Homo sapiens: one gene and its partners. The protein of the gene in region 6 interacts with the protein of the main gene of each other region in a pairwise test. Each region holds a gene or a part of one and is shown on either strand. Other genes may lie near its edges. The genes, in order: SOD1, LMNA, BANP, ZNF76, FLNA, ZMYM6 and ZBTB24.

What was found.
Region 1: the proteins of ZMYM6 (region 6) and SOD1 interact in binary tests that used the Homo sapiens proteins (3 or more experiments, as listed by UniProt).
Region 2: the proteins of ZMYM6 (region 6) and LMNA interact in a two-hybrid assay, tested with the Homo sapiens proteins (one large-scale study listed by BioGRID).
Region 3: the proteins of ZMYM6 (region 6) and BANP interact in binary tests that used the Homo sapiens proteins (3 or more experiments, as listed by UniProt).
Region 4: the proteins of ZMYM6 (region 6) and ZNF76 interact in binary tests that used the Homo sapiens proteins (3 or more experiments, as listed by UniProt).
Region 5: the proteins of ZMYM6 (region 6) and FLNA interact in binary tests that used the Homo sapiens proteins (3 or more experiments, as listed by UniProt).
Region 7: the proteins of ZMYM6 (region 6) and ZBTB24 interact in binary tests that used the Homo sapiens proteins (3 or more experiments, as listed by UniProt).

Annotation. Positions count from the first base shown.
Region 1 is NC_000021.9:31,662,693-31,666,061, forward strand, and holds part of SOD1 (superoxide dismutase [Cu-Zn]), read left to right. Parts: intron 1-1,097; coding exon 1,098-1,194; intron 1,195-1,613; exon of another isoform or gene 1,614-1,790; intron 1,791-3,369. UniProt on the Homo sapiens protein: Destroys radicals which are normally produced within the cells and which are toxic to biological systems.
Region 2 is NC_000001.11:156,135,211-156,138,710, forward strand, and holds part of LMNA (lamin), read left to right. Parts: coding exon 1-102; intron 103-650; coding exon of another isoform or gene 651-690; coding exon 691-911; intron 912-1,003; coding exon 1,004-1,226; intron 1,227-1,710; coding exon 1,711-1,818; intron 1,819-1,902; coding exon 1,903-2,022; intron 2,023-2,443; coding exon 2,444-2,533; coding exon of another isoform or gene 2,534-2,554; exon of another isoform or gene 2,555-2,656; intron 2,657-3,277; coding exon 3,278-3,500.
Region 3 is NC_000016.10:88,073,434-88,075,624, forward strand, and holds part of BANP (protein BANP), read left to right. Parts: intron 1-2,191. UniProt on the Homo sapiens protein: Controls V(D)J recombination during T-cell development by repressing T-cell receptor (TCR) beta enhancer function. Binds to scaffold/matrix attachment region beta (S/MARbeta), an ATC-rich DNA sequence located upstream of the TCR beta enhancer.
Region 4 is NC_000006.12:35,280,235-35,283,734, reverse strand, and holds part of ZNF76 (zinc finger protein 76), read right to left. Parts: intron 2,680-3,500; 5' UTR 2,584-2,679; coding exon 2,511-2,583; intron 1-2,510. UniProt on the Homo sapiens protein: May be involved in transcriptional regulation.
Region 5 is NC_000023.11:154,361,135-154,364,634, reverse strand, and holds part of FLNA (filamin-A), read left to right. Parts: coding exon 1-109; intron 110-262; coding exon 263-376; intron 377-469; coding exon 470-613; intron 614-1,850; coding exon 1,851-1,974; intron 1,975-2,056; coding exon 2,057-2,217; intron 2,218-2,302; coding exon 2,303-2,393; intron 2,394-2,486; coding exon 2,487-2,656; intron 2,657-2,847; coding exon 2,848-2,965; intron 2,966-3,064; coding exon 3,065-3,327; intron 3,328-3,500. UniProt on the Homo sapiens protein: Promotes orthogonal branching of actin filaments and links actin filaments to membrane glycoproteins. Anchors various transmembrane proteins to the actin cytoskeleton and serves as a scaffold for a wide range of cytoplasmic signaling proteins.
Region 6 is NC_000001.11:35,011,446-35,014,945, reverse strand, and holds part of ZMYM6 (zinc finger MYM-type protein 6), read left to right. Parts: intron 1-57; coding exon 58-249; intron 250-2,364; coding exon 2,365-2,515; intron 2,516-2,940; coding exon 2,941-3,056; intron 3,057-3,500. UniProt on the Homo sapiens protein: Plays a role in the regulation of cell morphology and cytoskeletal organization.
Region 7 is NC_000006.12:109,469,720-109,473,219, reverse strand, and holds part of ZBTB24 (zinc finger and BTB domain-containing protein 24), read left to right. Parts: intron 1-3,500. UniProt on the Homo sapiens protein: May be involved in BMP2-induced transcription.

The DNA of each region.
Region 1 (3,369 bases), on a different chromosome or scaffold from region 6:
ATATAATATTTTCTGACTGCTAATTAAAAATACCTGTGATAGCCGGGCGTGGTGGCTTACGCCTGTAATCCCAGCACTTTGGGAGGCCGAGACGGGTGGATCACGAGGTCAGCAGATGGAGACCATCCTGGCTAACACGGTGAAACCCCGTCTCTACTAAAAATGCAAAAAAATTAGCCGGGTGTGGTGGTGGGCGCCTGTAGTCCCAGCTACTCAGGAGGCTGAGGCAGGAGAATGGCATGAACCTGGGAGGCGGAGCTTGCAGTGAGCCGAGATCATGTCACTGCACTCCAGCCTGGGCGACAGAGCGAGACTCGTCTCAAAAAAAAAAAGAAAAAAACTTATGATGGACACTTAAAAACACTCACTGAGTGGGGAGTGGAGAGCAGGGGTCCCAGGGTAGCCTGTTGGACATTTCCAGGGCGACTTTTTCTTTTTTTTTTTTTAAAGTCAAGTGAGTATGCCATATGGAAAAGGGTGTGCGTGGAGAAAAAGCAAGGGGCTCCAGAGTGTAGGATGAGACATACACCTTTTGGGTTAAAAAGGCTGAGGCAGGAGAATGGCGTGAACCCGGGAGGCGGAGCTTGCAGTGAGCTGAGATCATGCCACTGCACTCCAGCCTGGGCGACAGAGCGAGACTCTTGTCTCAAAATAAAAAACGTTTACATGTACATGTATATTCAACATGTACAAATATAACCTATTCAAAAGTATTTACTACATAAATAGGTACTTACATTACCTATTTACTGTAATAGTCAAAGCCTATGAAGTATCTAACACTGATGTGTAGGTACTCACTTTGCTTGCCACTCTATTAGGTGCTTTTTATGTTATTTAATCATGAAGCCTGGCCACAGGGTGCTTGTGCATTGAGTGTGGGAACAAGATTACCATCTCCCTTTTGAGGACACAGGCCTAGAGCAGTTAAGCAGCTTGCTGGAGGTTCACTGGCTAGAAAGTGGTCAGCCTGGGATTTGGACACAGATTTTTCCACTCCCAAGTCTGGCTGCTTTTTACTTCACTGTGAGGGGTAAAGGTAAATCAGCTGTTTTCTTTGTTCAGAAACTCTCTCCAACTTTGCACTTTTCTTAAAGGAAAGTAATGGACCAGTGAAGGTGTGGGGAAGCATTAAAGGACTGACTGAAGGCCTGCATGGATTCCATGTTCATGAGTTTGGAGATAATACAGCAGGTGGGTGTTGTGCTGTGCTGGTGACCCATACTTGTTCACCCTAGTTAGATAAACAGTAGAGTAGCCCCTAAACGTTAAAACCCCTCAACTTGTTTTTGTTTTTGAGAAAGGGTCTTGCTCTGTCGCTCAGGCTGGAGTGCAGTGGCGCTGTGCGATCATGGCTGACCTTAGCCTTGACCTCCCAGGCTCCATTGATCCTCATGCCTTGGCCCGTAGCTGGGACTACAGGTACACACCACCACGCCTGGCTAATTTTTGTATTTTTTTCTAGAGGTGGGGTTTCATCATGTTGCCCAGGCTGGTCTTGAACTGCTGGGCTCAAGTGGTCTATCCTCCTCGACCTCCCAAAGTGCTGGGATTACATGTGTGAGCCACTGTGCCTGGGAAAACCCTCAACTTTTCTTTTAAAAAAGAGGTCAACTTTATTGTATATAAGCACTGTGCTAAAATTGCAGGAACTGGGACCATATCCTGATTTTTGTAATAATGCCAGCAGAGTACACACAAGAAAAGTAACTGCACTAGATTGTGAAGACTGGGGTGGACCTGCTTCTGAAGGTCCAGTGCCCTTTGTCTTAAGATTTGGTGTAGTGTGTCTTTAGAAACCAAAAAAAGAGAAGAAGATCAACCTTAAGATTAGCCACAAAACTGGGCTTTGATACCTAGGTGTGGAAAAGAAAGGGAAAGAGTTGATGTTTTGTCTTACAGCATCATTGTAGAAGAGGGTGTTTTTTTGTTTGTTTGTTTTTTGAGACGGAGTCTTACTCTGTGGCCCAGGCTGGAGTGCAGTGGCGCGATCTCGGCTCACTGCAAGCTCCGCCTCCCGGGTTCATGCCATTCTCCTGCCTCAGCCCCCTGAGTAGCTGGGACTACAGGTGCCCGCCACCCCGCCTGGCTAATTTTTTGTATTTTTAGTAGAGACGGGGTTTCACTGTGTTAGCCAAGATGGTCTCTCTCCTGACCTCGTGATCCGCCTGTCTCAGCCTCCCAAAGTGCTGGGATTACAGGCATGAGCCACCGCACCCAGCCAGAAGAGGGTGTTTTTTAAAGAAGGCAAATAGGAAATAAAAACTTGGGCTCTTAACTTTTGTAATGATCCCAGGTGTTTGAGCTGGGGGTTGAGGGTGGGTGCCTCGAGCAAAGGGGCTGCATTTATTTGCATAATGCCATGTAAGAGTAGCTCTACACCCCAAACACAGGCTTCTTAGTGGGACCAAAGTATGATACAAACTGAAGATGGAATGCAGAGGATTATTGGTACTTTGGAATATGCTTAAAAAAAATTTTTTTAAAGTATTTTTAAAAAATCAGGCAACCCCTGAACCAGAGTAGGTTCAGAGAAACTGCCAAATTTTATTTTCTTAATTTGGGATTGGAAGCAAGTTAACAGAAGTTTATGAGTTAAGTTGCATTTAGTGATCTTTTGCCATATTTGAGTAATAATCTGATTTTTTTGTTTATAGATTTCTTCTTAAATTAACTTTATTCATCTTGCTAATTTAGTTTCAAATAGTGATTTGTAATGATCAGATTTGATCCATTTCTGTAATTGCTGAAATTCCCCCGAGTTGCTTTTTGGCTTTACCGCCTCTGGTCTGGGAGGTGATTGCTCTGCTGCTTCCTGTAACTTGCCTGCCTTTCTCCCTGTGTGGGACTCCTGCGGGTGAGAGCGTGGCTGAAGACAGCCGTGTTATGAAAGGGCCTCCTGTGCTGTCGAGGTTGTGCTCTGTGAATGTCATCCCCTGGTGCACAGCAGCACCTTCTACACAGGATACAGTTGGAATGCCGCCCCCTCGAGTTGTGTAAGGCAGCAGCCTTGGCCCTTGCACATAAGATGCTGTTGAATATTCTGCCTGCACCAAGTAAAGGGCACAGATAGAACTGCTTGGCATATGTTGCTGGGGAGATGAGTTTTTTGTAAAGTATACTACGTTCTTAAGAATTTGGATCATAACCATGGGATTTTAATAATAGAAAAACTGTTGAAGATCAGTCTGGTCCCTTATTTTTACAGTGAAGAAGCCAAAGCCCAGAGAAGGGTGTTAACTTTACAAGTGTCAGACAGTAGTTAGAACTTGGTGGGGTTTTTTTTTTTTTTTTTTTGAGATGGAGTCTTGCTCTGTTGCCCAGGCTGGAGTGCAGTGGTGCGATCTCAGCTCACTGCAACCTCTGCCT
Region 2 (3,500 bases), about 120 Mb from region 6:
GAGAGGAACAGCAACCTGGTGGGGGCTGCCCACGAGGAGCTGCAGCAGTCGCGCATCCGCATCGACAGCCTCTCTGCCCAGCTCAGCCAGCTCCAGAAGCAGGTGATACCCCACCTCACCCCTCTCTCCAGGGGCCTAGAGTCTGGGCCGGATGCAGGCTGGAAGCCCAGGGTTGGGGGTGGGGGTGGGGGTGGGAGGTTCCTGAGGAGGAGAGGGATGAAAAGTGTCCCCACAACCACAGAGAAGGGTCGCAGGATGTGGAGTCAGATGGCCTGTGTGCTGTTTCTGTACACTCTTACCTCACCTTCACTTCTCAGGGCTTTGGTTTTCCCATTCGAAAATGGAGGCTGTTCTTAATCTCCCTAACTCAGAGTTGCCACAGGACTCTGCAATGTGAGGTGTTAAAAGCATCAGTATTTTTCTAGTTGGCTGTGCTATTTGTGACAGGAGAAAAAGTCTAGCCTCAGAACGAGAGGTTTCAGTTAGACAAGGGGAAGGACTTCCCAGTTGCCAGCCAAGACTATGTTTAGAGCTTGTGATGTTCAGAGCTGGCTCTGATGAGGGCTCTGGGGAAGCTCTGATTGCAGATCCTGGAGAGAGTAGCCAGGTGTCTCCTACACCGACCCACGTCCCTCCTTCCCCATACTTAGGGCCCTTGGGAGCTCACCAAACCCTCCCACCCCCCTTCAGCTGGCAGCCAAGGAGGCGAAGCTTCGAGACCTGGAGGACTCACTGGCCCGTGAGCGGGACACCAGCCGGCGGCTGCTGGCGGAAAAGGAGCGGGAGATGGCCGAGATGCGGGCAAGGATGCAGCAGCAGCTGGACGAGTACCAGGAGCTTCTGGACATCAAGCTGGCCCTGGACATGGAGATCCACGCCTACCGCAAGCTCTTGGAGGGCGAGGAGGAGAGGTGGGCTGGGGAGACGTCGGGGAGGTGCTGGCAGTGTCCTCTGGCCGGCAACTGGCCTTGACTAGACCCCCACTTGGTCTCCCTCTCCCCAGGCTACGCCTGTCCCCCAGCCCTACCTCGCAGCGCAGCCGTGGCCGTGCTTCCTCTCACTCATCCCAGACACAGGGTGGGGGCAGCGTCACCAAAAAGCGCAAACTGGAGTCCACTGAGAGCCGCAGCAGCTTCTCACAGCACGCACGCACTAGCGGGCGCGTGGCCGTGGAGGAGGTGGATGAGGAGGGCAAGTTTGTCCGGCTGCGCAACAAGTCCAATGAGGTAGGCTCCTGCTCAGGGTCTAAGGGGATACAGCTGCATCAGGGAGAGAGTGGCAAGACAGAAGGATGGCATGTGGAGAGAGGAACATCCTTGCCCTCAGAGGGTGGACCAGGGTGAGCCTGTATATCTCCTCCACACTCTGGTTCCAGGCCTGGCTCCTGGACTCTTTGGCTGTGAGACCTTGAGCAGGTTATTTAACCTCTCAGAGCATCAGTTTCCTCATCTGTAAAATGGGGATGAATACTGATCCCTAAGTCTTTGAGTTGTCAGGAAGATGAAAGATAAGGTATCCGTGTGCCTGGTGCTGCGTATGTGTCCACAGATCATGGCTATTATCCCCGGGGGAAGGGCAGTGACAGGGGTGTGTGTAGATGGAAGGAGAGGCCTCAATTGCAGGCAGGCAGAGGGCTGGGCCTTTGAGCAAGATACACCCAAGAGCCTGGGTGAGCCTCCCCGACCTTCCTCTTCCCTATCTTCCCGGCAGGACCAGTCCATGGGCAATTGGCAGATCAAGCGCCAGAATGGAGATGATCCCTTGCTGACTTACCGGTTCCCACCAAAGTTCACCCTGAAGGCTGGGCAGGTGGTGACGGTGAGTGGCAGGGCGCTTGGGACTCTGGGGAGGCCTTGGGTGGCGATGGGAGCGCTGGGGTAAGTGTCCTTTTCTCCTCTCCAGATCTGGGCTGCAGGAGCTGGGGCCACCCACAGCCCCCCTACCGACCTGGTGTGGAAGGCACAGAACACCTGGGGCTGCGGGAACAGCCTGCGTACGGCTCTCATCAACTCCACTGGGGAAGTAAGTAGGCCTGGGCCTGGCTGCTTGCTGGACGAGGCTCCCCCTGATGGCCAACATCGGAGCCAGCTGCCCCCAACCCAAGTTTGCCAATTCAGGGCCCCTTTCTAGAGCTCTCTGTTGCAGGCTCCAGACTTCTCCACCCAGTAGGCAAACCAAAAGATGCTTCCTCAACAGCACAAGGGGTGGAAGTTAGACAGTGAGGATTGTTAAAGGCAGAGCCATACTCCTACCCGGAGAGCTTGACAGTGTCCCTCTGGGGTGGAAATGAGTTCCTTAGCTCCATCACCACAGAGGACAGAGTAAGCAGCAGGCCGGACAAAGGGCAGGCCACAAGAAAAGTTGCAGGTGGTCACTGGGGTAGACATGCTGTACAACCCTTCCCTGGCCCTGACCCTTGGACCTGGTTCCATGTCCCCACCAGGAAGTGGCCATGCGCAAGCTGGTGCGCTCAGTGACTGTGGTTGAGGACGACGAGGATGAGGATGGAGATGACCTGCTCCATCACCACCACGTGAGTGGTAGCCGCCGCTGAGGCCGAGCCTGCACTGGGGCCACCCAGCCAGGCCTGGGGGCAGCCTCTCCCCAGCCTCCCCGTGCCAAAAATCTTTTCATTAAAGAATGTTTTGGAACTTTACTCGCTGGCCTGGCCTTTCTTCTCTCTCCTCCCTATACCTTGAACAGGGAACCCAGGTGTCTGGGTGCCCTACTCTGGTAAGGAAGGGAGTGGGAACTTTCTGATGCCATGGAATATTCCTGTGGGAGCAGTGGACAAGGGTCTGGATTTGTCTTCTGGGAAAGGGAGGGGAGGACAGACGTGGGGCATGCCCGCCCTGCCTCTCTCCCCCATTCTTGTTGCATGCATATCCTCTCATTTCCCTCATTTTTCCTGCAAGAATGTTCTCTCTCATTCCTGACCGCCCCTCCACTCCAATTAATAGTGCATGCCTGCTGCCCTACAAGCTTGCTCCCGTTCTCTCTTCTTTTCCTCTTAAGCTCAGAGTAGCTAGAACAGAGTCAGAGTCACTGCTCTGGTTCTCTGTCCCCAAGTCTTCCTGAGCCTTCTCCCCTTTTATGTCTTCCCTCTCCTCCTCCGGGCCCCTAGCCTCCCAAACCCCCATTGCCCGCTGGCTCCTTGGGCACAGAACCACACCTTCCTGCCTGGCGGCTGGGAGCCTGCAGGAGCCTGGAGCCTGGTTGGGCCTGAGTGGTCAGTCCCAGACTCGCCGTCCCGCCTGAGCCTTGTCTCCCTTCCCAGGGCTCCCACTGCAGCAGCTCGGGGGACCCCGCTGAGTACAACCTGCGCTCGCGCACCGTGCTGTGCGGGACCTGCGGGCAGCCTGCCGACAAGGCATCTGCCAGCGGCTCAGGAGCCCAGGTGGGCGGACCCATCTCCTCTGGCTCTTCTGCCTCCAGTGTCACGGTCACTCGCAGCTACCGCAGTGTGGGGGGCAGTGGGGGTGGCAGCTTCGGGGACAATC
Region 3 (2,191 bases), on a different chromosome or scaffold from region 6:
CCGCAGAGGCGCGCCCTGTACTCTGCGTGGTGTTTGGTTCCACATTGTCGCCGACCTCACTGGAGATGCGCTGGAAGCACGGTGAGGGCCATGGGCGCAGAACGCACAGGCAGTGAGGAGCGGGTGGGTGGGATGGTGAAGGCAAACTCGTTCGGCAGCGCTTATTTTATGTGGTGTGAACCTTGGCCTGTCCGTGAAGAACAGTCAGGCGTGGCTGCCTCAGCCCCTGCCGAGGACGCGTGGCAGCCCCCCGTGCCGTTCCAGATAGGAGCGCTGCAGGAGGGCAGTGAGGTCCGCGCCCAGGAAACTAGATGTGGGGGCCATGCCTGAGGGCGTCCTGCTGCATTATAAGTTTCTGGTCATTTTCCGATTTCAGAATTGAACAAACCTGTGTCCCATGGTTGGTGTTTACACCCCTAGCTTCCTGTAAGCTCTCTCTGTTACCATGCCCTCCTGGCAGGCCCCAGGTGAATGATTTAATTAGGATCCATCGTAACAGCCAAGGAAGACGGCGTGCTTAAGGGGCCGCTTTCCCTGCAGAAAACCCCAGCGTGGTTGGACTTGGTGGTGAGCGGGTTTGCCCATCTGAGGCCAGACAACTGCAGGGTGCGTTAGCTTGTCACCAAGGGCCCAGCTCTCTGCCTTACCATCTCAGCTTGTCCTCAGGCTAGCTCTGCCCCACTGGGAAGTGACCGAAGGCCTTCATGGTGACTCTGCAGGCGTGACTGCACCCAACAGAGACAGGTTTCTGGTTGAGCCTCCTTATCCACATGAAGCCCCCACCCCAGTCATGCTTGGGAATGGTCTTGCATCTTGCATGGGTCAGAGCAGGGTCACGCGCTTGAGCTCGTTCTAGGAAAACCTGTGGCTCAGCTGTGAGGGCCTGGCTCTGAGAAGATGGGTTCCCTTAGGAGGGAAGGCAGGTAGCTGGCCTGTGGGGGTGGCCAATCCTCAAAGTGGAGAGTGGGGCCTGTTCCCTGGAGCAGTGGGTTGGGAGGGTAGGGGGGTGCCATTTGCAGGGGAAGACACTTGTCTTAATGCGCGGTGGCCTGTGGGTGTCACAGGCTCCCTGAACCATCTGTAGCAGAGGCAGCACCTCCACCAGCCTCTGCCCAGAACACAGGTCTGGCCACTGTCCTTGGAGGGCAAGTGAGTCCCAGCCAGCCCAGACCTGTGCCCCACTGTCCCCACCCACCCAAGTCCCCAGCTGCCTTTCCAGCTGTCTGGGGGAAGGGGCTTTGCATCCCAGGCGGTGGCCCCCCTACCCCAACCTCCCATGGCCTTCAGCCACCCACCCCAGGGCCCTGGTGTGGCTCCTCCATTCCAGCTGAGGTTCACCCCTTCCCGTTAGGCCTTCCCAGCTGTGGCCGGGCTCGCAGGAGACAGTCCTCATACTGACCCCTCATCCTACCCTGGAAGGCCCCTCCTCCATCCAGGGAACAGTATATCGAGTGTCATTTGACATTTGTCTTGAAAAAGCACAACCTGGACCAGGTGCAGTGTTTCATGCCTGTAATCCCAGTGCTTTGTGAGGCCGAGGCAGGGGCGTTGCTTGAGCCCAGGACTTCAAGACCAGCCTGGGCAACGTAGCGAGACCCCCATCTCTACAAAACGTAAAAAAATTAGCTGGGGCCGGGCACGGTAGCTCACGCCTGTAATCCCAGCATTTTGGGAGGCTGAGGCAGGCCAATCACCTGAGGTCAGGAGTTCGAGACCAGCCTGCTCAACCTGGTGAAACCCCATCTCTACTAAAAATACAAAAATTAGCCAGGCATGGTGGCAGGTGCCTGTAATCCCAGCTGCTCGGGAGGCTGAGGCAGGAGAACTGCTTGAACCCGGGAGGCGGAGGTTGCAATGAGTCGAGATTGCGCCACTGTGCTCCAGCCTAGGTGACAGAGTGAGACTCCGTCTCAAAAAAATTTAGCCGGGCGTGGTGGTGTGCACTGGTGGTCCCAGCTACTTGGGAGGCTGAGGTGGGAGGATCACTTGGGCCCATGAGGTCGAGGCGGCCGTGAGGTGTGCTTGCACTACTGCACTCCAACCTGGGCAACAGAGCAAGACCCTATCTCTAAAAAATAAAATGAAGCAGGACCTTAACTAGAGTAGAAGTTGCCAGGCCTCTTCCTCCCGTGGGCTCGGCCGTGGGCTCGTGGCTTCTCCTGGCTCTTCCTTTGTGGTTCCTGTGCCTTCC
Region 4 (3,500 bases), on a different chromosome or scaffold from region 6:
AAAGCATCAGCAAGCTACGGCCAGCAGAGTGGGTACTGCTTCAAGGTAGAAAACAAAATGTTGAGAAGAGTTGTCTGAAGAAAAAACTTAGCCTACTATTTCCTCAAACAACCAGAGACTACAATGGAGAGAGGCAGTGGGGAGAACAGCTGACTGACAAGGGCCTCATATCCCATTACAGAGAGGTGACCATACGCCCCAGTTTGCCTGGAACAGTCCTAGTGCATTTATTAATAGCACATTCTTCCACTTTTAAAATGCTGGGTTTGAATAATACATTTTATACTCATCCTAATTAAAGATAAGTCTCTTACAATTTTAGGGCTTCCAGCAGACAGAGACAAAAATGCCTCAGTCAAAAGCTTCAGAGGAGAAGTCAGAGAAGCCTTTCAGGAAAGTGTGGTTCTGGTCTCTGAAGGAGAGCTCTACCCTGAGCAGAGGGAAAATCTGTTGTGAGTGAGTGTGTGTTTGCATATGTGTGTGTGTAAGTGCACACTGCAACACTACAGAGTGGGCAAAGAACAGCCAGGAAGACTGACAGAATAAAGAAATACGTAAGAAGGATAGATATAAGGAAAGAGTGGCTCTCTCAGGTCAGGTGTGGTCACTTGCTTTTTATTCATTTGTTTGACCATTAATTCTCAGTGGAAGACTGAGGCACGGGAACTAACTGGGTCCAAGGAGTAAACACAACCCTAGCTAGAGTTCTAAGTTCTTCCATCCCATGGAGACTGCACTGGAGGGGCAAGACCTGGAGTGGGAAGTCTGCAAACAGAGAGTTTCAGGCTTCAAAAGCATTCTAGAGAAGTTGCGTTCTCAAGAAGATGAAGCCAACAAGAACCCACATGTCACAGACAGCTCTTGACAAGAAACCTTTCCAGAAGGGACCCCCACACACTGTCATATGGAAAGTGCTTACTGATGAGATTAAGGGGACTCCTTAGTCATCATCAGGAAACAGACAACTTAAAATGAAATCAATAAACAACTTATCTGTAAACTTAGGAGCAGAAATATATTCTGAGAGTGTGTTGAAATAAAGGAGGGCAATGTTGCAATGACAGTGCTTCAGGAGGACAGTGACAATCATGGAGTCCAGAAAACGCCAAATGAACAGTAGGAACAAGGCAGTATTTGCCTTGTTCAAGGTGCTGTCCAAGGAAGACACGAATGCTATCTGGCTGCCTGAGAACACTGGCAAGAAAGGAAAAGTGTCCCTGGCCTGCAGGCCTTGCCCTAAACACTTTATTCTGACTCCACACCTACCTTGATTTTAAGTACCTTCAGTGTAAGGATAGAATTGCCAGATAAAATACAGGATGCCCAGGTAAATCTGAATTTCAGATAAACAATACTTTTTTTTTTTTTTTTAGAACTTGGTATTATTATTTTAGTATTTTATAGTATTTAACACCCCCTACTTTTTTTTTAGATGGGGTCTTGCTGTTGTCTAGGCTGACCTCAAACTTATGGCCTCAAGAGATCCTCCCATCTGAACCTCCCAAGTAGCTGAGACTACAGGTGCATGCCACCAAGCCCAGCTTAATCCCACATTTATATATGTCTATCCCTTATAAGGGGTATATGTATGTCCCTAGTATGTGGTATACATACGTCCCTACAACATTTGGGATGTATGTATCCTACAAGAGTATTCATTGTTACGTCCAATTCAAATTTAACTACATGTCCTATATTTTCAATTCTGGCATCCCCTAGTGGGGATTAGGGCATGAGATCTCTGCTTGGGTGTTCCTCTCTGAATCAGGAAGAGTATCTTTTTTTTTTTTTTTTTTTAAGAGATGGGATCTTGCTCTGTCACCCAGGCTGGTGTGCAGTGGTGCAGTGATAGTTCACTGAACCCTCAAACTCCTGGGTTTCAGTGATCCTTCTGCCTCAGCCTCCTGAATAGCTGGGACTAAAGGTGCATGCTGCTGCACCCAGATTATTATTTTTATTATTTTTTTTAGAGACAAGAGTCTTGCTATGTTGCCCAGGCTGGTCTCCAACTCCCGGCCTCAAGTGATCTTTCCATCTCAGCCTTCTGAGTGCTGGGATTATAGACATGAGCCACTATGCCTGGCTTAAAAGAGCATCTTGTACATGGCAGATGCTTAGTAGTTTGAATGTTTGAATATACTTGAATTAAGATGATAAACTGCTTCTAGAAAGCACTAAAAAACTGTGACAGGGGATATCTGAAAAGCAGGGAGTCATAACTAACACTGTGTTCATTCCAGAAATATTTATCAACTGCTTATTACATATTAGGAATTCTGTCTTTGAGAGGTATTGGTTCCTATGACTGGGATTGTCTGACTTGTAGCATTTTATTTTAGAGTTCCCTTTTCATCAAGCACCACAGGAGATTCTAATGCAGAGCAAATTGTGGTGGTGGGCAAGGGTAAGCAGGCGGGAGGGCAAGGTGATGGTGGGACTCTTAGAAATGGACACTCCTTTCCAGAGGCTGAGGGACAGGGCAGGATCCTGAGGTCCCCAGAAATACTTACCTTTGACAGCTTGCTGGACGTAGGCTGTTGTCCCATCACTAAGGGTCACCGTGTGCAGCCCCAAGCTCTCCATGGCAAACTGCTGCTCGTGCACTCAGACATGAAGTTGGCTTCTGGCCAGCACCAAGAGCCACAGCTGAGGTCAGAGATTTCCTTCTGGGTCACAAATCTAAGAAAATAAACAGTATCACATTATGAGTTAACCAGCTTTCTCCTATCGCAAAGACACTCAGGGAAGGAGTTAATGAGGCCAGCCAGCCAAGAAGAAAAAAGATGAATTCTTCAAAGTAGTGAACTATATTGGTTTTTATGAAAAGGGCTCAAAATACACATTATCTAAGAATTCTAAAAGTTAAGCATAGAAGAGAAGCATGCCAATCAAACTGGTCATAAAGTAAGAAATCACTGATCAAAACCCATTTCTAAACTTTCTCCCCTTAGGAAGGAGCCCTGCTGAAGGCAGGCAGTTAACCCCACTGCTGATGGTTCTCTCTGCCTACTCCAACATCTCTCCTGTGCTCGGACCCATTTATCTACTGAGCTTGTTAACCATCCTCAGGGAACATCCCACATGTACCACACGTGGAATAAGTCCTCAACAGAACTCACAATGTGTCCCAACCTTCCAGAACTATTGTACTTCCAGTATCCCCTATCCCAGGGGTGGTATCGCCTTCCACCCAGAACTTCAGGGCGGGGGGGGGGGGGATCATGCTTGAGTCCTCCTTTTCCCTTAAAAGTCCAGGTACTTATTTCAGGCATGTCTCACCTTTCACCTCTGGACAACTATAAGGAGCCTTATAACTTATGTCCTCAGATAAACTTTTGTCTGTTTCCAATTCATTTTCTTTTCTTTCCTTTTTTAGAGACAAAGTATCACTCTGTCGCCCAGCTGGAGTGCAGTGGCTCCATCACAGTTCACTGTAACCTCGAACTCCTGGGCTCAAGTGATCTTCCTGCCTCAGCCTCTTCCAACTCATGTTCTAACAT
Region 5 (3,500 bases), on a different chromosome or scaffold from region 6:
GGAGGCTGGCGAGTATGCCGTTCACGTGCTGTGCAACAGCGAAGACATCCGCCTCAGCCCCTTCATGGCTGACATCCGTGACGCGCCCCAGGACTTCCACCCAGACAGGGTAAAGAGCAGGCTGTGATGGCCTAAGTCTCGCCCTGCTGCTCCTGCTTGGGGTCTGGTGGGGATGGCACTCTGTGTCCCTGGCCACCCTGCCTGGGTTGTAGCTCTGGCAGCCTGGACCTGGCCCCCTGACAGCTGGGTGGTCTCCCGCTAGGTGAAGGCACGTGGGCCTGGATTGGAGAAGACAGGTGTGGCCGTCAACAAGCCAGCAGAGTTCACAGTGGATGCCAAGCACGGTGGCAAGGCCCCACTTCGGGTCCAAGTCCAGGTAGAGCACCCACGGGTGTTGGGGGCAGGGCAGGTGTGGGCACCCAGGCCTGGGCACTGACCAGCAGGCCACCTGCTCCTATCTGCCTGACAGGACAATGAAGGCTGCCCTGTGGAGGCGTTGGTCAAGGACAACGGCAATGGCACTTACAGCTGCTCCTACGTGCCCAGGAAGCCGGTGAAGCACACAGCCATGGTGTCCTGGGGAGGCGTCAGCATCCCCAACAGCCCCTTCAGGGTGAGCCAACCTCCACCGGCCTTTAGTCCATCTCGATAGCATTCACGTAGCACACGATTCGTCCATTTCAAGTGGTTGTGGCACACCATCCTGACTCCCCTGTCCCACAGCTCCTGGTGACCACTAACCTGCTTTCTGCTGTGGCTTTGCCTATCCTGGACATGTTCTATAGATGGAACTGTGTGCCATGTGGCCTTTTGTGTCTGGCTTCTTTCGCTCACCACGAAGTTTTCCGTGTTTTCGTTCATGTTTGGCATGTCTTGGCACTTTGTTCCTTTATAATTATTTTGTTTATTTATTTATTTATTTGAGATGGAGTCTCACACTGTCGCCCAGGCTGGAGTGCAATGGCGCGATCTCGGCTCACTGCAGGCTCTTTCTCCCAGGTTCACACCATTGTCTTGCCTCAGCCTCCCGGGTAGCTGGGACTACAGGCGCCCGCCACCCCCCCGGCTAATTTTTTGTATTTTTAGTAGAGACAAGGTTTCACTGTGTTAGCCAGGATGGTGTCGATCTCCTGACCTTGTGATCTGCCCACCTCGGCCTCCCAAAGTGCTGGGATGACAGGCATGAGCCACCGCGCCCATCCTGGTTTTTTTTTTTTGAGCCGGAGTTTTGCTCTTATTGCCAGGCTGGAGTGCAATGACGTGATCTCAGCTCACTGCAACCTCTGCCTGCCAGATTCAAGCAATTCTCTCCTGCCTCAGCCTCCTGAGTAGCTGGGATTGCAGGCATACGCCACCATTCCCAGCTAATTTTGTATTTTTAGTAGAGACGGGGTTTCTCCATGTTGGTCAGACTGGTCTCAACCGCCTGACCCCAGGTGGTCCGCCCACCTTGGCCTTCCAAAGTGCTGGGATTACAGGCATGAGCCACCACGTCCGGCCGCTTCATTTATTTTTATGGCCGCATAATACTCCATTGTGTGGCCAGACCACATTCCATTTTTCCGTTCACTTGCTAACAGATATTGAGGATGAGCTTGCCTTTGGTGATCATGAACAGTGCTGTTAACAGTGAGTCCAGGTGTTTGCGTGGACATTTGCTTTCATTTCTCTTGGGTAGTTGCCTCGGAGTGAACCGGAGCATCACACAGTCCCTCTGTGGTCAACTGAGGAACTGCCAGACTCTTCCCAAGGCAGCTGGACCATTTTGTGTGCCTGCCAGTGTAGCTGAGGGAGCTTCTGAGTCTCCTCCAGGCTGCTCATGCCCTTGCCCTTGCCCCTGTGCCCTGCAGGTGAATGTGGGAGCTGGCAGCCACCCCAACAAGGTCAAAGTATACGGCCCCGGAGTAGCCAAGACAGGGCTCAAGGCCCACGAGCCCACCTACTTCACTGTGGACTGCGCCGAGGCTGGCCAGGGTAAGGCCTGGCTGTGGGTGGGAGGGCAGGTGGCTGGGGTGTCCCTGCGAGGTCTCAGCCTCCGCTCCTCTCCCCGCCGCAGGGGACGTCAGCATCGGCATCAAGTGTGCCCCTGGAGTGGTAGGCCCCGCCGAAGCTGACATCGACTTCGACATCATCCGCAATGACAATGACACCTTCACGGTCAAGTACACGCCCCGGGGGGCTGGCAGCTACACCATTATGGTCCTCTTTGCTGACCAGGTGGGTGCTGCGCTCCTGGCCGCTAAGATGTCATTGCGGATGACGTCTGCCCTCCTCTAAGGCCTTCTCCTCCCACTGCCTGCAGGCCACGCCCACCAGCCCCATCCGAGTCAAGGTGGAGCCCTCTCATGACGCCAGTAAGGTGAAGGCCGAGGGCCCTGGCCTCAGTCGCACTGGTGAGGACAGGTACCCCATGGCAGGTTGCGGGGCATCAAGGGTAGGAGGGCTTGGGGCAGGGTGCCCCTACATGGTCCCTGTGTGTTCCTCAGGTGTCGAGCTTGGCAAGCCCACCCACTTCACAGTAAATGCCAAAGCTGCTGGCAAAGGCAAGCTGGACGTCCAGTTCTCAGGACTCACCAAGGGGGATGCAGTGCGAGATGTGGACATCATCGACCACCATGACAACACCTACACAGTCAAGTACACGCCTGTCCAGCAGGTAGCCACACCCTCCACTACAGTCACCGAGTCCCCAGCCTCCTCATGCAGCAGCCTAGGGGACAGCTCCGAGGGACTTTCTGCCCACTCTCATTCCTTACCTGGGAGAGGACAGGCATGGAGGTCCAGGAGGGGGTTGGGGAGCAATTCTGGTGTCTCTAAATACCCCCTTCCCTTCTGCACCCTTCCCAGGGTCCAGTAGGCGTCAATGTCACTTATGGAGGGGATCCCATCCCTAAGAGCCCTTTCTCAGTGGCAGTATCTCCAAGCCTGGACCTCAGCAAGATCAAGGTGTCTGGCCTGGGAGAGAGTAAGTAGTTGGGGCCCTTGTCGCAAAGGCCTTTGTCACATCCAGGGATTGGCTGAGCTGGGTGTCATGTCTCTCTCCTTCCTTTCATCGTTTCCACAGAGGTGGACGTTGGCAAAGACCAGGAGTTCACAGTCAAATCAAAGGGTGCTGGTGGTCAAGGCAAAGTGGCATCCAAGATTGTGGGCCCCTCGGGTGCAGCGGTGCCCTGCAAGGTGGAGCCAGGCCTGGGGGCTGACAACAGTGTGGTGCGCTTCCTGCCCCGTGAGGAAGGGCCCTATGAGGTGGAGGTGACCTATGACGGCGTGCCCGTGCCTGGCAGCCCCTTTCCTCTGGAAGCTGTGGCCCCCACCAAGCCTAGCAAGGTAATTGGGGTATGGGAGGCCCTAAGGGTAGAACCCACTGTGCTCTCTGAGGGCCCCAAAGGTACCCCATCTTCTCCAGACCTGCCCTAAATCCTTTTTTTTTTTTTTTTTTCCTGAGACAGACTGTCAACCTTGACCCTGTTTAAGTGAGAGTAAAGGGGAGGAGGGAAATA
Region 6 (3,500 bases):
TTTTTTTTTAACTGGCTCTGCTTATTTTGTGTGTGTATGTGTGTGTTTATTTCCTAGACTCGATTTGAAGTTAAATATCAAAATGTGGTACATGGTCTTTGTAGTGATGCCTGTTTTTCAAAATTTCACTCTACAAACAACCTCACCATGAACTGTTGTGAGAACTGTGGGAGCTATTGCTATAGTAGCTCTGGTCCTTGCCAATCCCAGAAGGTTTTTAGTTCAACAAGTGTCACGGCATACAAGCAGGTATGAATATCTATTTGTTGCATGTACTTAGGCCCACTCCTTCTGATTTGGCTGCACAGGGATGAACTACAAAATGAGAGTGAGCTCCTCCCATTAGTCCATCCTGATATGTGATTTCCCTTCCAGAAAATGGGATAGATTCTGATGGTGTGAGGGATGATTGTGGTGGTAAGTTGATATAGGTAAAATAGGTCCCTTTTTTAAGGCTCCCTTCATAGCTAAGAATTTACAAATGTGATTTCTTTTCTTTTTTTGAAATCGAGATAGGGTTTTGCCATGTTGCTCAGGCCGGTGTTGAACTCCTGAGCTCAAGCCATCCACTCGCCTCAGCCTCCCAAAGTGCCGGGATTACAGGCATGAGCAACCACACCTCGGCCTCATAAATGTAATTTCATGATTTTCTGTGAGCATGAAATATTTTGTGATGTATTGATAGCAAGAAAACCATATTATAAATAAACCATAAGCAAGAGTTAAGATGATAAAATCAGTGAATCTAAACAAAGCTTGTCTTTTTCATTTCAAAATGTGTTTGGGAATGAATTGTAATTATTTGGTCAACACTGTCTCATGAGAATACTTCAAGTAATTTTATTTATTGTAATGAATAATGGATTAAGCCGGTTACTAAATATTATCACCTTGTGTCAATTTAATTATTACTAATTTGTGGTTTTAAAAAGTTTTTCTTAAAGAAGTATCTTGTAAGGCCGGCGCGGTGGCTCACGCCTGTAATCCCAGCACTTTGGGAGGTCAAGGCGGGTGGATCACGAGGTCAGGGGTTCGAGACCAGCCTGACCAACATGGTGAAACCCTGTCTGTACTGAAAATACAAAAATTAGCTGGGCGTGGTGGCGGGCGCCTGTAATCCCAGCTACTCAGGAGGCTGAGGCAGGAGAATTGCTTGAACCCGGGAGGTGGAGGTTGCAGTGAGCTGAGATTGTGCCACTGCAGTCCAGCCTGGGTGACAGAGCAAGACTGTCTCAAAAACAAACAAACAAACAAAAAAAAAAAACAAAGATGTATCTTGTAAATGATAATTAAACTTTTTTTCAGTTAGCAAGTTTGATTTGTTGCTTCCTTTGAGCAGTTGGTAATGGACATATGGACATTCATCACTGAAAAGAATCTCTTTTTTTAAGATTTGCCATTTTTGGCAGTCTGGTTCTACTTTCACAGGAAAAGAATCCATGTTATTTTATATATGATCCCAAAATCAGTTCCATTTCTAATTTTGTTACTAGTATTGTACTCTGTCTTTTTACTAGGAAGATTATGTAGTGAAACCTCACAATTTATATTTTCCTACAATTTCTTTTCATATTGAGAGACCTTATAATGTATCACTGACAGCATAGTGTAGTGGTTAGGAGCCTGAACTTTGGAGCCTGATGAAATGAGTTTAATTTCCTACTTCTTCTGCTCATCTGTTAATTTAAACTTTTTGTTAATGTAATTTTTGAGAGCGCCTCACTCTGTTGTTGAAAGGTTTCTGTGATACACTATATATAAATTTCTTAGCCTGGGGCCTGACTCATGGTAAGCATTCAGTAAGTTATAATATTGGTTATGTAAATGGTAGCTATTTTTATTATTTCTTAAAACATGAATAAACTTATAAGCAGATTTTATTATGAAACTCAGCTTGAAAAATAGGTAGTTGTGTAGGATCTCTATTAATATACATTAAATATCATTTCTATCTCCTGCTAAAGAATCTCACAAATTAAGTAACCTTAAAGGTGGTAGACTCTTCTAGATTGATGTACAAGACTATACCAAGAATGACCCTTTGGTTCATGGGTTAGCTGGTCTTCTCTGGTTATTGGTGATTAAAAAGTATGTAATGACTATTTAATTCATTACTTGTGTTTGAATTCATGTGTTTTGTTTGCTAAGATCTCTATCTGAATAGTTACTAATTTTCTTCAGTTTCTATTTTATTGTTGTCTGGAAGAACTTATTTTCCCACCTCCCAATAGTGTGGTTTCATCATCATGCTCAAATATTTCAACCAAGGACCGTGGTTGTAGGTAGCTTTTCTTTTTACTTTTTTGAACAATATGTAAATATGTATGTTTGTACTAGGTATCTAATGTTATTTTATTTTAATAGAATTCTGCCCAAATTCCTCCATATGCCCTGGGGAAGTCATTGAGGCCCTCAGCTGAAATGATTGAGACTACAAATGATTCAGGAAAAACAGAGCTTTTCTGCTCTATTAATTGCTTATCTGCTTACAGAGTTAAGACTGTTACTTCTTCAGGTAATGTTTAAATTTGATAAATTTATAGATTTAATAACTATTGAAGAAAAACGTAACTGCTTTTCTCTGATTTTGTTACAAGCTAAATTTATCTATTTAGTTAAATAAAAACCCAAGACTGACTTTTAAATAACTGACTTTTATGTGAAAATAGTTTTTCCCCGATTTTCTTGGTTGCAATATATACAGTATTTTATAATTTCATATGTGAGAGGAAAGAAAAAACACTTAAAATTTCCAAGTTAGTTTTTGTGTAAGTGGGACTTAATAGAGGTTAGTTGTGGTTAGATTTCAGATTTTTATAAAGTTCCTTGATTTTTTTGGTATATTATTGATTATTTAATTTTTTCATTCTCCCAATACATTTTTGTATTGTTTGTTCATTGGTATAACTTAATCATTGTTTTTAATTTTTTGTCACCAAGGTGTCCAGGTTTCATGTCATAGTTGTAAAACCTCAGCAATCCCTCAGTATCACCTAGCCATGTCAAATGGAACTATATACAGCTTCTGCAGCTCCAGTTGTGTGGTTGCTTTCCAGGTATGATCTAAGGTAGCACATTATGCATGTGGTTCTGTTAGGCATCGATCTGTGGCACAGTGTTAACTGCTGAAGGCCTGTTCTTATGAAAGTTTAAATTTGAATTAAAAAGAAAAAAATTTGTTTCATCCAGGGGCCCAACCAGGTCATTTCTACAAAATATCTGAACCCAGATATTGGGTCTCAGCAGTTTCTTCTTTATTTAGGATCCTAGCCTAAACTGTCATTCCCTCCCACTTTCTCCCTTGGGTCTCTCCCCTTCAAAAAGATGGAAGCTAGGATTGTGGTTTGGGTAGGTGGTATGGTGAAGAACAGTAGCCTGATGGGATTCACATACCCCTTCCTCTCATCCTGTGTCAGAAACACAGTGACTCCTGGCATGGAATTGTAAGCATCCACTTGTCCCATTTTCTCCTCCCTCTCTGCAATACATACACAAAGAGT
Region 7 (3,500 bases), on a different chromosome or scaffold from region 6:
CCTTGTCCCAGCTGCCAAGATTCTGATTGACTTCACCTGGGCAGAGCCTGGGAATTGGTGTTTTTTAAAGTACCCCTCAACAGTTGTAGGGTGCACTCGGGCTGAAGTACTTTGAAGGCCACAGTAAAGATTGGATTTTATTCTGAGGGAGATGGCTTTACTGAGATGAGTGACATGGCATGACTTAGGGTTGTAATAGGGTCACTCTAGCCACCCTGTGAGGTGGGGGCGAGGCCAGGGTGGAGGCAGAGAGACCCATCAGGAGGCTGTGCAGTAGTGGGGCTCGGAACAGCACAGTAGCAGCAGAGGTGGTGTCAGGTGGTCCAGTTCTGGAGATAGTCCAGGGAAGAATTCATGTGATTCGCTCATGATTGGATGTGGGAGTTGAAAGAGGAGGCAAAAGCCACTGTGAGGAGGAAAAGCTAGGGAAGACTAAGAAGAACAGATCAGGAGTTAGATTGTGGACTGGTTGGTGTCTATTTGACATCCATGTGCAGGTGTGGGGTAGATCATTAGATTTCCAGGTCTGGAGAATTCGGGGGAGAGATGCAGCCAGAGCTCTGGATTTCCACAGGTGCACATGTGCCTGCAAATAGTGGGTGGCGCTGTGCTGAGTTCCCTAGGGAGACAGCGGTGGTGGAGGAGCGTGGAGCTGGCTTGGTCATGCTGAGCAGTGCCAGAAGAGGCACTTCCCCTTGGTTCTGTTGCCTGAGCATAAGGGGGAGTGAGGTTTCTGGGCTTTGTGAGTAGCAGTAGGACTTGAAGTGGGGATGAAAAGGAACAGAAGACCTCCCCCACTATAATTCCAGCAAACTCTTCTCAGCCTGTCAACTTTGAGAAGCAGAACAGAAAGTGGAAGATGTGTGATGAGTTAAAAAGGAGACAGACGGGCCTCTGTGGTTTGCATGACTTAGAAATATGAAAAGAAATTGAACCTATCAAAAAATTGGGGTTCTTCAAGAGCAGCAACTATGACCCATCTGTCCCTAGCATCAGCATGGAGAATCTGCTTGAATGTTGGTGAAGGGCATTGGCGTGCCATTTCCCTGCTCCCTGGGCATTCAGAGTGAGAAGTGCCAGTCCTACTCTCAGGGCCATGCTCAGCTGGAAACCAAGACTTCATCTCTTAGAGATGAGCTGTCATTCATCTCTTAGATCTTTAGGCACAAACTCTCTGGGTTAGATGTCCTGCACCAAGCACTGGAGAAGTCAAAGGCAAATTAGAGATGTTCCCTTTCCTAGGAGTGCATCCCCAGTGAGGGAGGTGAACACATTTTGACATGGAGGCAAAGTGTCAGGCAGACAAGCAGTACCTGCCAGGTCACCACATCTCAGGCCCTTCTGCTCACATCTTGTCCCCATACCTGGCACTGGTCAGGTTTACAGGGACCCAATCAAGCCAAATGAGTTCACAGGACAGATAAACCAGAGGATATATCAACTCAATAGAGGGATTACACCTTTCTGTTGCCCACAGCACCTCCTTCCTCACATTAGTGACCCGAAAGCCAAGTTAGTGATCAGAAGATTGCATGGTGAGCTGGGAACAAGTCAAGGGAATTAGCCCAGGTCACAGAGAAGCCTGGTGAGTGACCTCTGACCCCACAGCACAGTCCCACCCCGCCAGTGTCCCTGTTCCTGGATGGTGTTCCATAAACACTGATTCTGCCCTGAGGGTTCCTACTCACAGGTAGATGGCCCTGTCAGGGAACAAATGATAAAGTTCAGTAAGTCACAGTTCTGTTCACAGCCTCATTGTGGCTTGAAGTTGAAGCTTCCCAAATCTCTTCAACTGTGTGTTGAGACCATCCATTAACGTTGAGACCTGGGGGTCTTCCCATCTTCCTGAGACCTGGGGGCCCCTCACCATAACATGCCCTTACAGAGTCTACGTGCCATCTACTATGAAACAGTATGGCGTGGTCAGAGCCACAGCAGAGGTGTGAACACAGGACAGGAAACAGCTGAGAAGACCATATAGGAATGCCAAGTACACAGGTGTCAAACCATGCTATCCACAGTTATCATGGACATGTGTCCCTTTTTTGCCAAGATTGGCAAGTACATGAGGAAATGCACATCTTTATTTATTGTTGGTGGGAATATAATTTGGGAACCCCCTGGAAGGAACTTTTGCAATACTTACCAAAACATAAACTGCACAATTGTGAAAAGATGTTTGCCTAAGGATATTCATCATAGGCAGCATTGTTTATAACTTAACAAGCTTAACAGCCACCTGAATGTCCCAGGAGGGGATTAGATAGGTAAATTTGGGGCAGTACACACAATGGTACACAGCACAGGGTTTTAAAATGGTGGTGTGGCTTTACTGATGTGACAAACGGCATGCATTGGATGACCTCACACAGTAAGACCGCAAATAAACAGATTTGTCTGTAAAGATATTCGCCATTGTTAACTGGTTGTCTCAAGAGATGAGAATAGTGGAGCAGTTTTAATATTCTTTGTATTTTCAATATTTGATTCTTTTACAATGAACACAGTAATTTTTTAAGAAAAACAAAGCCGTGGTCCACAGTGGGAGGCAGGATGCTGAGGGGTCCACACGGACGGAACTGGACTGCCAGGTGAATGTGACAGCTGAGGGAATGGGAGGTGTCACTGTGATTGTTGTGCCTGGCTGGACAGGGGCTGGGTGATGTTGTCATTAACATGTCATGCCCCATGTTATTCTGGGTTTCAGCAGGTGGGCATGGGAAATCCAGCTGTGATGCCAATAAGCAGTGACTCATCGATCCTATCTGGAGTGGGGTCCGGGATTTAAGTCACTGGGGAAGGGTAGGGGTGGGATCGGTGGAGTAACTGCTGAGAAGAGGATCTGGAAGTACACCCTGGAGCTGTTTCAGTACTTCCGTTGACATCACCCTGGGTGGGTGGGATTGGTGTAGTAACTGCTGAGAAGAGGGTCTGGAAGTACACCCTGGAGCTGTTTCAGTACTTCTGTTGACATCACCCTGGGTGGAACCTTTCATCACACTCCTGTCTCTGCCTTTTCCTTTAATCGCTATTGTCTAATCCTCTTGTAACACACTTCTTTCCGGTCCCCATGCCTCTCAGGCCCTGTCCTATTACCTTATCCTTCTCCGTCTGCCTCCTGCCACCTCCTGGTCCAGGCCTTGTGCATAGCCTGTTAGAGGTCCTCCTGCCTCTAGCCCACCCTCCTCATCATTCCCAGGTGTATTTTCTTAGTACTTTCAGCATGTCATTCTGCTAAAAACTTCCAGAGGCTCCACAGGTCCCCTGCCTGGATTTCATAGCTCCTGTTGCCTTGGCCTCCTGACTCCTGACAGTGATCCTTGGTCACTGGTGCACACCGTGTAGTCATTTCTGACACCAGCTTCTGCTCATACTATTTAGACTAGTACCCTGGCCCAGGCTTCTTTCCAGTCTAGCCAGATCCTGCCCACCCCATCCAGCACCCTGTCTGCACTCAGAATTGTTGACGCCACTCGTTTTAATGTTCAGTGAAACACAGC